Linked DNA regions of Homo sapiens. The protein of the gene in region 1 purifies or fractionates together with the protein of each later gene. This does not show direct contact. Each region holds a gene or a part of one and is shown in the gene's direction. Other genes may lie near its edges.

Evidence for each region. The genes of interacting proteins can lie anywhere in the genome.
Region 2: the proteins of ZNF684 (region 1) and POTEE purify together in Homo sapiens (affinity purification with mass spectrometry; 2 studies listed by BioGRID and IntAct, with this or other methods). This does not show direct contact.

Annotation. Positions count from the first base shown.
Region 1 is NC_000001.11:40,526,022-40,535,487, forward strand, and holds the start of ZNF684 (zinc finger protein 684), read left to right. Parts: upstream 1-5,615; 5' UTR 5,616-5,766; intron 5,767-7,121; 5' UTR 7,122-7,145; coding exon 7,146-7,160; intron 7,161-9,466. UniProt on the Homo sapiens protein: May be involved in transcriptional regulation.
Region 2 is NC_000002.12:131,261,095-131,266,913, forward strand, and holds the end of POTEE (POTE ankyrin domain family member E), read left to right. Parts: intron 1-631; coding exon 632-752; intron 753-2,260; coding exon 2,261-3,589; 3' UTR 3,590-4,184; downstream 4,185-5,819.

The DNA of each region.
Region 1 (9,466 bases):
TACAAATGGCCAAAAAATATATGAAAAATGTTCAACATCACTTAATCATCAGGGAAATGCAAATCAAAACCACAATGAAGTATCATCTCACCTCAGGATGGCTATTATCAAAAAGAGAAAAAAATAAGAAATGCCCTTTAGGATGTGGACAAAACGGAACTCTTACACTGTTGGTGGGAATGCAAATTAGTACAGACACTGCGGAGAACACTATGGCGTTTCCTTTAAAAACTACAAATAGAATTATGTGATCCAGCAATCCTACTGGGGCATTTATCCAAATAAAAGGAAATAAGCATATCAAAGAGATATCTGCATCCCCATATTTATTGCATCACTATTCACAATAGCCAAGATATGGAATCAACCTAGGTGTCTAACAATAGATGAATGGATGAAGAAAATGTGGCATATATGGACAATGGAATACTATTTAGCCAGAAAAAAAGAATAAAATCAGCCAGGTGCAGTAGCTCGTGCCTGTAATCCCAGCACTTTGGGAGACCGAGGTGGGCGGATAACAAGGTCAAGAGATTGAGACTATCCTGGCCAACATGGTGAAACCCTGTCTCTACTAAAAATACAAAAATTAGCTGGGCGTGGTGGCACACACCTGTAGTCCCAGCTACTCGGGAGGCTGAGCCAGGAGAATCGCTTGAACCGATGAGGCAGAGGTTGCAGTGAGCAGGCAACCTACAGAATGGGAGAAAATTTTTACAATCTACCCATCTGACAAAGGGCTAATATCCAGAATCTACAAAGAACTTAAACAAATTTACAAGAAAAAATCAAATAACCCCATCAAAAAGTGGGCAAAGGATATGAACACACACTTCTCAAAAGAAGACATTTATGCAGCCAACAGACACATGAAAAAATGCTCATCATCACTGGCCATCAGAGAAATGCAAATCAAAACCACAATGAGATACTATCTTGCACCAGTTAGAATGGCGATCATTAAAAAGTCAGGAAACAACAGGTGCTGGAGAGGCTGTGGAGAAATAGGAACGTTTTTACACTGTTGGTGGGACTGTAAACTAGTTCAACCATTGTGGGAGACAGTGTGGTGATTCCTCAAGGATCTAGAACTAGAAATACCATTTGACCCAGCCATCCCATTACTGGGCATATACCTAAAGGATTATAAATCATGCTGCTCTAAAGACACATGCACACGTATGTTTATTGTGGCACTATTCACAATAGCAAAGACTTGGAACCAACCCAAATGTCCATCAATGATAGACTGGATTAAGAAAATGTGGCACATATACACTATGGAATACTTTGCAGCCATAAAAAAGGATGAGTTCATGTCCTTTGTAGGGACATGGATGAGGCTGGAAACCATCATTCTGAGCAAACTATCACAAGGACAGAAAACCAAACACTGCATGTTCTCACTCACAGGTGGGAATTGAACAATGAGATCACCTAGACACAGGGTGGGGAACATCACACACTGGGACCTGTTATGGAGTGGGGGGAAGGGGGAAGGATAACATTAGGAGAAATACTTAATGTAAATGACAAGTTAATGGGTGCAGCACACCAACATGGCACATGTATACATATGTAACAAACCTGCAAGTTGTGCACATGTACCCTAGAACTTAAAGTATAATAAAAAAAATCAAGTCAAATCAAATCCTGTCATTCTCAGCAACACATATGTAACTGGGGAACATTATGTTATGTGAAATAAGCCAAGAAAAGAAGGTTAAACAACGCATGTTCTCACATGCAGAAGCTTTAAAAACTTGATCTTATAGAAGTAAAAAGGAGAGAAGAGGATACTAAAGGGTAGGACGAGTTTGGGGAAGGAGGGGATAGGAAGATATTTGTTAAAGGATAGAAAATTACAGCTAGATAGCAGGAATAAATTCTCATGTTCTATACCACTATAGGATGACTATAACAATAATATAGTTTCAGATAGCTAGAAGGAAGGTATTGAATATTCCCAACACAAAGAGATGATAAATATTTGAGATGAAGTATATGTTAATTACCCTGATCTGAACACTATACATTATACATATACACTATGCCTATGTATACACATGCACTATATATATACACTATATGTCAAAATATCACTATGTACCCCATAAATATGTACAGTTATTATATATCAATTTTTACAAACCTCACCAGGGTCCTACAAATTTAGGTACTGTTATTGTTCTCATTTTACATTTGAGGAATCTGAGGCACAGATAAATTTATAAACTGGCCCAGTGTTGCATACCTAATAAGAGGTAGTGCACTGATTCAAATCCAGGCAGTCTATCTCTGCAGCCCACACTGTTAGCCACTAGTATGTCAGAAATTCAAAACTTCAAAGTCAATGTCTAACCAACCCAGGAGCAGTGAACACCACCAGATGCCTGATCAAGGTCTTGAAATACCATCTCCCATTAAAAAGAGCCAGGTTCCTTGGAGAAATGGCTGATTTAAGGTCTGGGTCAGGAAATGAACAAGAGAAACCTGAAGCACCTTGTCATATAGATAACAAGCTATTGAAGACTAATAGGATCATTCCAAAAGAAGAGGACTCTCAAGAGCCAACTTAAAGAGGCTCCCAATGGCCAAAGATGTGACAGTTTGAATATCAGTAGGGATAACAATAGCAATAGATTGAAGCACATCAAACATGTTTAAATCTATGAGTTCATAATGATGCTCAAAAATTGGTCATGTTTAAGAGATAATTGGGATGTTAAGTTGAAAACTGGTAAATAAATTTTTTTCCTGACATTCCTATGTGAACTGTATACCTGAATAACTACATAGTACATGATATGAAGTTCCTCTTTATAGGAATAATCCAGCTGCTAAATGACAAAGGAATGATAGAATTAGAGTGTCCCTTTTTTACAACCTCTAAAGTTGTGGTATGATCATAGCTGACTGCAGCCTCAAACTCTTGGCCTCAAGCAATCCTCCCTCTTCTTCAGCCTCCCAAAGTGATGTGGTTACAGGCATGAGCCACTGTGCCCAACGTTTGTACTTAATTTTTTAAAAACTCTAAAAGAAATTGCAATTATGAGAAAATTGATAATTTGAACAATGACTCAATGTTTGATGATGTTAAGGAAATATTGTTAATATTTTAGATGTGATAATAATATGGTTTTTTAAGTCTTTATTTTTATTGGTGAAATTATATGCTCTGGGATTTGCTTCAAAATACTATGCAATGGGGTTGGGGGTAGAGATGAAACAGAATTGGCCCTGAGTTGATAATTATTGGAGTTGGGGGATGGATACATGGAAGTTCACCACTATTCTTTCTACTATTGCATAGTTTAAAATTACCATAATGAAATGTTTTGTAAAATTAAATGCCTAATTTTTGGGTTGCACAAAATACATACTGTTTCTAATAAAAATACATAAGTAATTTGGTCCAAAATACTTTAGATATTAAGATGTAATGAATTTATTCTACTACCCATGTCTTTAATATATGTCCTTTCTGTTGAGAGAGAGGAGAGGAGAGGGGAGGGGAGGGGACGGGAGGGGAGGCAGAGAGAGAGAGATGTGTTTATTGCATAGAAAATGCTAGTAAAGTCAGTGGGTACTAATATCACTTGATCTTAGCCAAAAGGCTGAGAAGCGATAATGGCTACTAATATCAAGCCAGTTCTTAATGGTGCCAGGCAATAGTACTACATTTCCTTAATCTATTCACTTGCTCACATTCATAAATCATACTTTATCGAATCTCAGATGCCATTGATTATAAGTTGTATTATTATTTTATATACTAATAAAAAACAATGCTCCTGATTAAACTATGGAATGCCATCACTTGTAAGACAGCAATTTCACAGATGTTAAAATATGAAAAAATCATGTTTCAAAATCATCATAATACGGTATTCATCTTTTCTGTCAAGTCTAAAATACTTTCCCCCTATCTTCATTTCAGCTTCCTATTTCACTGGGAAAATAGAAGCACTCAGAACAGGGCATCCTCTTTCTCCTACCACCATATTTGTCCACCTGTTTGGATCTGTACTTATAAACTCTGCCTCCCCTTTTATTTCAATGGAGATGAATTATCCATACTCTTACTTAGAATGATCCCTGTGATTGTGTACTGGATTCCATCCCTTCTCTTCTCAAGGACATTCCTCCGAGTAACTAGCCTGTCTATCCTGAATTGTGTATTTCCCGCCTCTACTGGATCTTTTGTTTTATTTTATTAACTAATTCATTTATTTGAGACAGAGCCTCGCTCTGTCGCCCAGGCTGGAGTGCAGTGGTGTGATCTCGGCTCACTGCAACCTCTGCCTCCCGGGTTCAAGTGATTCTCCCGCCTCAGCCTCCCAGGTAGCTGGGTTTACAGGCGTCTGCCACCACGCCCGGCTAATTTTTGTATTTTTAGTAGAGACGGGGTTTCACCACGTTGGCCAGGCTGGTCTCCAACTCCTGACCTCAGGTGATCTGCCCACCTAAGCTTCCCAAAGTGCTGGGATTACAGGCGTGAGCCACTGCGCCCAGCCTAGATCCTTTTAATTAGTACATAAACTTACTATAATTTCTTCCATCTTTTTTATTTTATTTTTTTGAGACAGAGACTAGCTCTGTCGCCCATGCTGCAGTGCAGTGGCGGGATCACGGCTCACTGCAGTCTCTACTGTCTGGGCTCAAGCGATCCTCCCATCTCAGCCTCTCAAGTAGTTGGGACTTCAGGCGGGTGCCATGCCAGGCTAGTTTTTTATTTTTTGTAGAGATGAGGGTCTCACTATGTTGCCTAGGCAGTTTCAGACTCCTGGGCTCAACCAATCCTCCCACTTTGGCCTCCTGAAATGTTAGGATTACAGGCATAAGCCACCACACTCAGCCCCATCTTTGAATTAAAAAAAAAAAAAAAATTAGAACGTGGAAAAACGCAACAACAAAAGATTAACAAAATCCCTATCCCATGATAGCCTTATTTTTCTGCTCACCTTAAAAACAAAACTTCTTAAAAGTATTGCGTATATTTGCTTTCTCCATTTCCTCTCCTCCCATCCTTCCCTCCAACTCCTATCAAATTTTCATCAGACTTTATCAAACTTCCACCACTGCCAAAATGGCGTTTCAACATCACTGGTGACCATTGCTACAGTGGCCCATTCTTAATTCTCATTTTACTTGACCTATGAGCAACATTTGAGACAATGGGTCACTCCCTTCTTGAAACACTTCCTTCCCTTGGTTTTGCAGATCTAAACTCTCCTACTTTTCCATCTACTTCATGGATTATTCCTTCTCAGTCTTCTTTGTTGGATCCTCTTCACCTCTCCGACTTAACCTGGTGCATTGCTAGAAGAAACCCTGCTGAGTAAGAGCAAATTGTTTTTAGCATACCGCCGATTTTACTTTCCAGTATTTAAAAATGCTGTGTATCCTTTTAAATGAAAACGACTTAAAAAGCGTGGCTCTCAGGCTAGCAATAGAGATACCAACCCGGGAATCTCCGCACCACCCCCCAAGAGGAAGCAGCGTCTGACGTCTTCCGGAAACGAGCTCCACTGGCCTTATGGGAAATGTGGTCTCCGACGGATGGCCTACACCCGGGAGGAGTCCAGGAACTCTAGGTGGACAGTTACTTCCGCACACGCGTAGTAGGACGGTAGCCGGTATTCAATCTTCAAATCAGCGCCGCGGGAAGTGCGGGCGGGTGTTGCTCCCCTGTCTCTGGACGACGCTGTGACTGATCCCAGGCTTGGAGCCGGAGCTGCGAGCGAGGCAGTGAAAGGGTGGCAGGTATGGCTTTGCTGGACTCGGAGGACGTAAGAGAAAGGCGGGGACTGGCTTCTAGGTTTACCCTACCGAAGATAAAACTTTAGTCTCCAAGCGCAGTGACTTCAGGTTTGGATATGTGGGTCCTGTTCAACTCGAGTAGCTGAGAGAAAGCAAGAGTTGGGCTCCGACTGGCACTGGGTAGATGTCCAGGGCTCTGGTGGGACTGGGAGAGGCTCAATTTGCATTCCTGCTCTTGTAGGTCAAGGTCACTATGTAGGAGTCTGTTCATCTAACTGTACCTTTCCTGGTTCCAAGAGCATAGTTGGCCCGACTGGAGCCTGCGACAATTTTAAGCCGTGTCAAGGGATCCAGTGGAAACTGTAAGCTATTTCAAGGGATCCAGGAAGAAAGCATTCTTGAGAAACTGCTATGGATTAGAAGGGTATTCTCAGCAATCATTTGAAGTAAATGCTATTACCATTTTGCATATGAGTTAACTGAAGCTGAAAGGTGAAATTACTTGCCTGGACTCACACAGCTTAGTAAGTGGAAGAACTGAGATTCAAACTCAGATACATTTTCTCCAAATTTCTTTTTTTTTTTTTTTACAGTATAGCATTCCTGCATAAAACAGAGTTGGGTTTATTCTCCTGAAATGTTTGAGCAATGAATGCTGAGTAAATTTCGATTTGTAGTCATTTTGTAGAGTCTCTTGGTGTATCTGCAGATCTTCCAGTGCAGACTGTGTAAATGAAGATGTGAGTCCCCGGTTTGCCCATTATACCCTTTCTAGAGCCCCAGCAGTTCTAAGCTCATAGGAGATGGCGAGTTTCTACAGAGAGAAACATTTGGAGTTTAAACTGAAGGATCCAGCTTAACAAAAAAAAAATAAAAAAAAGTGTTCCTGGGTCCCTGAATCCAGCCTTCTCAAGAAAGCCCAACCTAATTTGCAATCTCTTATCCCAGCGTCAGAGTAGAAACCAGAGAATCACAGGAAGGAATCATTTTTAGACTTACGGAGCTTCAGAGACCAAGCTTTTAAGTGAGTCAACTCATTCATTATTTCTTCAGGATAAATTTCTGGGAGGAAAAAAAATAACTGTTTCAAGAGGAACCACTTGGTGCTAGATCAGTAGGACAGAAACATATAACATCCTTATCTAAGCTCCATATATTCCTAACAATCACAAGTAGAGATCTGTGCTTATGGAACATGGACTTTTCTGTCTTGCTAGAAATGTCATTCTCCCCCACTAGGTGGCATTTTCTGAGGCTGCAGTGTGGGTACTTATGGTCTGATAGAGCAGGGTTCTACTTTGCATGCAGTCCTGGTATCTCAGGTCTTTCTATTCTCTTCCCCATTTCTACTTTCATAGATTTCTGTGTAAGAGCTGCAGAAAATGATCAGCTTCCAGGTAAGGTATCCATCTATTCATCCAGTTGTTTAAATCTCCCAAAAATCCATATGATAAAAAGGAAATGTATGGTCAGGAAAAATGTAAACCAAATAAAAGATCAAGTCTAAAAGGAAATTTAGAAGATTGGTAAGTTGATATTCAAGTCATAGGGTTTGCAGATGGTTGGAACAAATTTGAGCTGCAAATGTGTACTCAGTCTTCCTGGAAATCATAGTAAATGGATAACCAGCCAGTTAAAAAGTATTGGCATTGCTGTGAAGATAAAGCAAAATTATTCTCCTTGTAAGTAAAGTTTTTCCTGACACAGTTCTTTGAAGAAAATCTTTTCTAATGAGTTTTCACATAGATAACATTAGAAATAACATTCACAGCAGCAGCCTGCGATAAATACAGCATCAGGTTTCCTATGACTTTCTTAGAGTATTCCCTAGAGTAAGAACATAGTGCCAAGCAGCACTAAATGAACTCAATTTATAAGTCCAGGTATGTGGCCTTTTTAATGCCCACCTGGATCCATAAGTAAATCTTGTACCTTTTCCAGTCTCTAGCTATCCTGAGCATTTACTCTTCTACATGAATTTTAAGGTCATCAAAATAACAAATATTGTCAAGGTTCATAAAGCAGTATGTTAGGTATTCTTTTTTTTTTTTTTTTTTTTGAGACAGTCTTGCTCTGTTGCCTAGGCTGGAGTACAATGGCGTGATCTCAGCTCACTGCAACCTCTACCTCCCAGGTTCAAGCGATTCTCCTGCCTCAACCTCCCAAGTAGCTTGGATTACAGGCATGTGCCACCACGCCCAGCTAATTTTTGTGTTTTTAGTAGAGACGGGGTTTCACCTTGTTGACCAGGCTGGTCTCGAATTCCTGACCTCAAGTGATCTGCCTGCCTCAGCCTTCCAAAGTGCTGGTAGGATTACAGTTGTGAACCACTGCGCCCGGCCAGATATTCTTATTAGGATTGCATTAAACTTAATAGGTTAATTTGGAGAGAATTCATGACTTTTCAATGAGTCCTATTTATTCAGGTTTTCTTATAGGTCTTTTATTATAATTTTTTTTTTTTTTTTTTTTTTGAGACAGAGTTTCACTCTGTTACCCAGGCTGGAGTGCAGTGGCACAATCTTGGCTTACTGCAACCTCCATCTCCTGAGTTCAAGTGATTCTCCTGCCTCAGCTTCCTGAGTAGGTGGGATTACAGGTGCCCGCCACCACGCCCGGCTAATTTTTGTATTTTTAGTAGAGACAGGGTTTCACCATGTTGGTCAGGCTGGTCTCGAACTCCTGACCTCAGGTGATCCACCCATCTCAGCCTCCCAAAGTGCTGGGATTATAGGCATGAGCCACCGCACCCGGCCCTTTTATTATAATTTTATAGGTTTTATAAGTTTCTTATTGTAATTCCTGTACATTTCTTATATTTATTCTTACATATGGTTTTAGTTGCTATTGAGAATGAGGTAGGCCTTTTTTTCATTATCTCTTCTAATTGGCTATTTTGGTAAATAGAAAAATATGGACTTCTCTTGGCTGGGCATGGTGGTTCATGCCTATATTCCCAGCACTTTGGGAGGCTAAGGTGGGAGGATTGCTTGAGGCCAGGAGTTCAAGACCAGCCTGGGCAATATAGCAAGACCCCATCTCTAGAAAAAAAAAATTAATTAGCATGGCATGATGGCACACACCTGTAGTTCCAGCTACTAGGTAGGCTAGGGCAGGAGGATCTGTTGAGCCTAGAAGATCAAGGCTATAGCTAGCTATGGTCACAGCACTGCACTCTAGCCTGGGTGACCCTGTCTCTGAAGAAAAGAAAAGATGGATTTCTCTATGTTGAATTTATATCCAGCCAATGTACAGAACTCTTGTTAGATCTAAGAGTTCTTTAGTTGATTCTTCTATTTCTTAGGTAGACAATCATACATTCCAAATGGAGTTTTATCTCTTCCTGCCCAATATTTATACCTTCCCCCATATTTTCCTTGTCTCATTGCAATGGCCAGGACTTCTAGTCACTGCAGTTTTGAATAAACAGCCATCCTGTGGTATCCATGGGAGACTGGTTGCAGAACTCCTGCAGATCCCCAAATCTGAACATAATGAAGTCCCACAGTACAGTTGGCCCTGTGGAACTTAAGGATAGGAAAAGTTGGCCATCCATATTCATGGGTTTTGCATGGCAAGAATACTGTATTTTTTTTTATCTGCATTTGGTTGTAGATGCAGAACCTGCCAACCAAGGGCCAACTATATTCATTGCAAAAAAATCTGAGTATAAGTGGAACCAGGCAGTTCAAACCTGTGTTGT
Region 2 (5,819 bases), on another chromosome or scaffold:
CAGTCCCTGGCCTGTTAGGACCTGGGCCACACAGCAGGAGGTTCGAGGCAGGTGAGCAAGTGAAGCTCCATCTGTTTACAGCCACTCTCTGTCGCTCGCATTACCGCCCGAGCTCCTCCTCCTGTCAGATCAGCGGTGGCATTAGATTGTCCTGAGTGTGACCTGAACCCTGTTGTAAGTTGCTCATGCAGGGGGATATAGGTTGTTCACTCCTTATGAGAATCGAATGCCTTTCTGATCTGTCACCATCTTCCGTCACCCCCAAATGGGACCATCTAGTTGCAGGAAAACAAGCTCAGGGCTCCCACTGATTCTACATTTTGGTGAGATATAATTATTTCATTATATATTAATAATAATAGAAATAAAGTGCACAATGAATGTAATATACTTGAATCATCCTGGAACCATCCCCCACCTCAGGTTCCTGTAAACATTATCTTCCACAAAACCAGTCCCTGGTGCCAGCATGGTTGGGGACACCTGGTTAACAGATGTGAGACCCCTTTGCCTTGTCTTGGAATAATGTGCAGATATGCATTGTGTGAATGACATCTGATGGCGCCATCTTGCCCTGTACATCATTTTAGGGACAGCTCCAGTATTTCATGAAAATTAAAATTTCTTCTAGTGACGAACAAAATGATACTCAGAAGCAATTTTGTGAAGAACAGAACACTGGAATATTACACGATGAGATTCTGATTCATGAAGAAAAGCAGATAGAAGTGGTTGAAAAAATGAATTCTGAGGTATTTTCTTTAGTTATTTTCAAATGTTTTTATATGTGTGTATATTTTAAAGAACTGTATTTTGGAAATATAAAGGATTTTTAAGTCATATATATGTGTGTATATATTCTATATATCCTTTGTCATATATCTATATACGTACGTATAGGATAAAGCCATGTTCTTAATTCACCTTCATTTGCCTGCAACAGTTGAGTAGTGACCTGCACAATGGCCTCAATCCAAAGGAGAAGTATTTGATGTTTTTCATAAGAATTGATGATCTTTCCACATCAGAAATAAGTTTTGCTACTGAAAACAGATTTTCTCGTTTTTGGACATTAGTTTTTTAAAAAATGTTAATAGAGAAGTCAATTGATTATTTTTACTGATAAGAAAGTAGGAAATGTATAGCTGGGTCAGAGGCCACATTGTGGATACCATTATCCTTACTTTTGCAGAGAGGAACAGTTTGCTCCAAGTAGTTTCTCATTTCAGTGTAAAGAGGTTTGAAAACAATGACATGCCATGATACACATTTAGTAATAATTTATTGATAAGTATTTTGTTTCTGGAGAAATAGTTCAGTATATTTCCCCTATTTCACCATTACTACTGTTTCAAACATTATAAAGAGGAAATAAAAGTTACCGCAATGGCAAATAATCTCATGATTTCTAAGAAGATCTCTATAAGTTGTATCTTATTTACCATTCATATTTTGAAACAAAAGGTTTCTTTTGTATTTATATATTTACACCACAGAAGTAAGTGTGGTTTTGTGGAGGATCACTAGAAGTAGCATCAGCAGACCTGGGGAAAATCCTGCATCTGTGTATATTTTTTGACCTCTCCTTTTAAGAATCGCGATCTTAAATGAGTTCAGTATTATATGTAGAAGAGCAATGCCTAGATACAGATGTGTACAGTGTAGAAGGGTACAGTGCTTAGATTTGACAGTTATAAATAAATGTAATTCTTATAACTGAGTATAGAAATATTAGAAATGTAGAATATCGGTAAAACGTTCTTCAGTAAAAGAAACTTAAAGAACTTTGAGAAATTGCTTCTGTCCAAATATATGCATAGCTAAGGCTCTTAGGATGGTGTGGTTGATAGGTTAGATATCAGAGTGTAAACCTAATCTTAAAAATGTAGTCAAATTATTAATCTTATATTTTATGCCTCTGGGTTTTTTGTAACTCAGAAAAAGGCTTTTTTAATTCTGGGATTCTTAAAAATCCTCTAGTGATTTATTTTTCATCGTCTTTAAATAAATATTTAAACTTTTAGGAATTTAGGAGCAGATTCCTAAAAGTTTAAATATTTATTTAAAGACGATGAAAAATAAATCACTGGAGGAATTTACACTCTTATTAGGTTTGAAGTTTTGTCCAATTTTTTTCCAGTTAAATATCCACTATGGGGATTCTTTCATTATACAAATACATGTTATTTTTGAATTTCAGAAGAAATCATGATATGTCAATCTATTGAGTGCTAACTAAAAGTTCTCTTTGTTTACTTAGCTTTCTCTTAGTTGTAAGAAAGAAAAAGACGTCTTGCATGAAAATAGTACGTTGCGGGAAGAAATTGCCATGCTAAGACTGGAGCTAGACACAATGAAACATCAGAGCCAGCTAAGAGAAAAGAAATATTTGGAGGATATTGAAAGTGTGAAAAAAAAGAATGATAATCTTTTAAAGGCTCTACAATTGAATGAGCTCACCATGGATGATGATACCGCCGTGCTCGTCATTGACAACGGCTCTGGCATGTGCAAGGCCGGCTTTGCGGGCGACGATGCCCCCCGGGCTGTCTTCCCTTCCATCGTGGGGCGCCCCAGGCAGCAGGGCATGATGGGGGGCATGCATCAGAAAGAGTCCTATGTGGGCAAGGAGGCCCAGAGCAAGAGAGGCATCCTGACCCTGAAGTACCCCATGGAACACGGCATCATCACCAACTGGGATGACATGGAGAAGATCTGGCACCACACCTTCTACAACGAGCTGCGTGTGGCTCCCGAGGAGCACCCCATCCTGCTGACCGAGGCCCCCCTGAACCCCAAGGCCAACCGCGAGAAGATGACCCAGATCATGTTTGAGACCTTCAACACCCCAGCCATGTACGTGGCCATCCAGGCCGTGCCGTCCCTGTACACCTCTGGCCGTACTACTGGCATCGTGATGGACTCTGGTGACGGGGTCACCCACACTGTGCCCATCTATGAGGGGAATGCCCTCCCCCATGCCACCCTGCGCCTAGACCTGGCTGGGCGGGAACTGCCTGACTACCTCATGAAGATCCTCACCGAGCGTGGCTATAGGTTCACCACCATGGCCGAGCGGGAAATCGTGCGTGACATCAAAGAGAAGCTGTGCTATGTTGCCCTGGACTTCGAGCAGGAGATGGCCACGGCGGCCTCCAGCTCCTCCCTAGAGAAGAGCTACGAGCTGCCCGATGGCCAGGTCATCACCATCGGCAACGAGCGGTTCCGCTGCCCCGAGGCGCTCTTCCAGCCTTGCTTCCTGGGCATGGAATCCTGTGGCATCCATGAAACTACCTTCAACTCCATCATGAAGTCTGATGTGGACATCCGCAAAGACCTGTACACCAACACAGTGCTGTCTGGCGGCACCACCATGTACCCTGGCATGGCCCACAGAATGCAGAAGGAGATCGCTGCCCTGGCGCCTAGCATGATGAAGATCAGGATCATTGCTCCTCCCAAGCGCAAGTACTCCGTGTGGGTCGGTGGCTCCATCCTGGCCTCGCTGTCCACCTTCCAGCAGATGTGGATCAGCAAGCAGGAGTATGATGAGTCAGGCCCCTCCATTGTCCACCGCAAATGCTTCTAGGTGGACTCTGACTTAGTTGCGTTACACCCTTTCTTGACAAAACCAAACTTCTCAGAAAACAACATGAGATTGGCATGGCTTTATTTGTTTTCTTGTTTCATTTTTTGTTTTGTTTTTTATTGGCTTGACTCAGGATTTAAAAACCGGAATGGTGAAGGTGACAGCAGTCGGTTGGAGGAAGCTTCCTCCAAAGTTCTACAATGTTGCCAAGGACTTTGATTGTACATTGTTCTTCTTTTCAATAGTCATTCCAAATATTGTGAGACGCATTGTTTCAGGAAGCCCCTTGCCCTGCTAAAAGCCATCCCACTTCTCTCTAAGGAGAATGGCCCAGTCCTCTCCCTAGTTCACACAGGGGAGGTGATAGCATTGCTTTTGTGCAAATTACATAATGCAAAATTTTTTGAATCTTCGCCTTAATACTTTTTAATTTTGTTTTATTTTGAATGATCAGCCTTCGTGGCCCCCCTCTTTTGTACCCCAACTTGGGGTGTATGAAGGCTTTTGGTCTCCCTGAGAGTGGCTGGAGGCAGCCAGGGCTTACCTGTACTCTGACTTGAGGAGAGTTGGATAAAAGTGCACACCTTAAAAAAAATTGAGGAAGCACAGTATTTCAGTACAGTGGACAGCTTAGCATGTTGACAACTGAGAATAAAATGCTCAGTTCTGAACTGGACAATGTAAGACACAACGAGGAAACACTGGAAATGGAAATTCAATTACGTCATTGTAGACTGGCTGCTGCTCTACATGATTGTGACCAAAGTCAGATAGCTGAAAGAGACTTCTTTCCAGAGAACAAGACATGAACAGGTTTATTTACAGAAGACAATGAATTCTCATTTATCTCACCTAAAAGAGAACAGATTCTTTCTCAACAAGTCTAATGTAGACAGTAAAATCAACAGGCTAAAAATTAAGCTCCACGAAACAAGATAAAACTCTGAGAGAAAAGACGGGGCAGGCCGCCATCTTTCCCGTTCAGGCAACTTAGTCATTCCAGCCTGCGGGCTTTGGAGAGTACAAACCGACGAGGGACAGAAGAGATCCCACAGCACAGCATAGCTGCTTTACCAAATCATGGCCAGACTGCTTCTGTAAGCAGGCCCCTGATCCTGTTCCACCTCACTGGACAGGACCTCCCAACTGGGGCCTCCAGCTACCCCCACCAGCATTCCTTGGCCAATGGAAATGTGAAATGTTCCTGGGACAGAGCTCCCGGAGAGGGGCAGGCCCCCACCTTTGCTCTTTTGGTGACTAGCCATTCTGGCCTGCGGGCTTTGGAGAGCCCAAGCTGACAAGGGGTGGAAGAGGTACCTCAGCACAGCACAGCCACGCTACAAAAACGTGGCCAGACTCTTGTTTACGTCAGTCCCTGACCACATTTCTAGTCAGCGGGTGAAGTCTTTCAACCAGGGTCTCTGGCTACCTTGACTGCTGTTCTCTGGCCGACAGAGGTCTCAGGCCTCCCTGAGTCAGAGCTCCCAGGGGGAGGACCAGATTGTCATCTTTGCTGTTTGGGTGACCCAGCCATTTCAGCCTTAGGGCTTCAGAGTGTCTGAGGTGGACCAGGGGCTGAAGTGAACCCCCAGCACAGCACAGCTGCTCTATAAAAACGTGGCCAGACTTTTTTTTTTGAAGCAAGTCCCTGTTCTTGTTCGTCCTGACTAGGTAAGACTTCTCAACTTGCCTCCAGCCACATCTTATAGGTGTGTTCAGATTGGCAACAGGTTCGTACCTCAGTGGTACAGAGCTTCCAGAGGAAGGGGCAGACTATCATCTTCCCTGGAAAATACAAGGCAATTAGGGACTGGAGGGGACCCCCAGCATACCACAGCAGCCCTACAGAAAAGTGGCCGGGCTCTCTACTTGATGGGCAGATCCTCCTGGCCTGGGTCTCTAGCCAGCCCACCACTGGAGCTATCAAGCCAGTAGCAACTCTGCAGTTCCTGGGACAGAGCTTCCAGGAGCAAATGAAATCCTTTCTGCCACTGCCTCTGCAGTGGAACTGCCCTTGCTACCCTCAGAAGATGCAAGGGAGCAAAGACCCTAAGTGCCCTATCAACACCTCCAATAAGCTGCAGTTGACCCAAAGAACAAGCCAGTCCATCTCCCACGGGTACCACACACCCTCCACTACTCATCACCAGACAGGGAACCCTGGCTTGGGCTCACAGCACAGACCCTCCATCCTGGGCTGATTACACTAAGTGATTGCTAACTCACATGT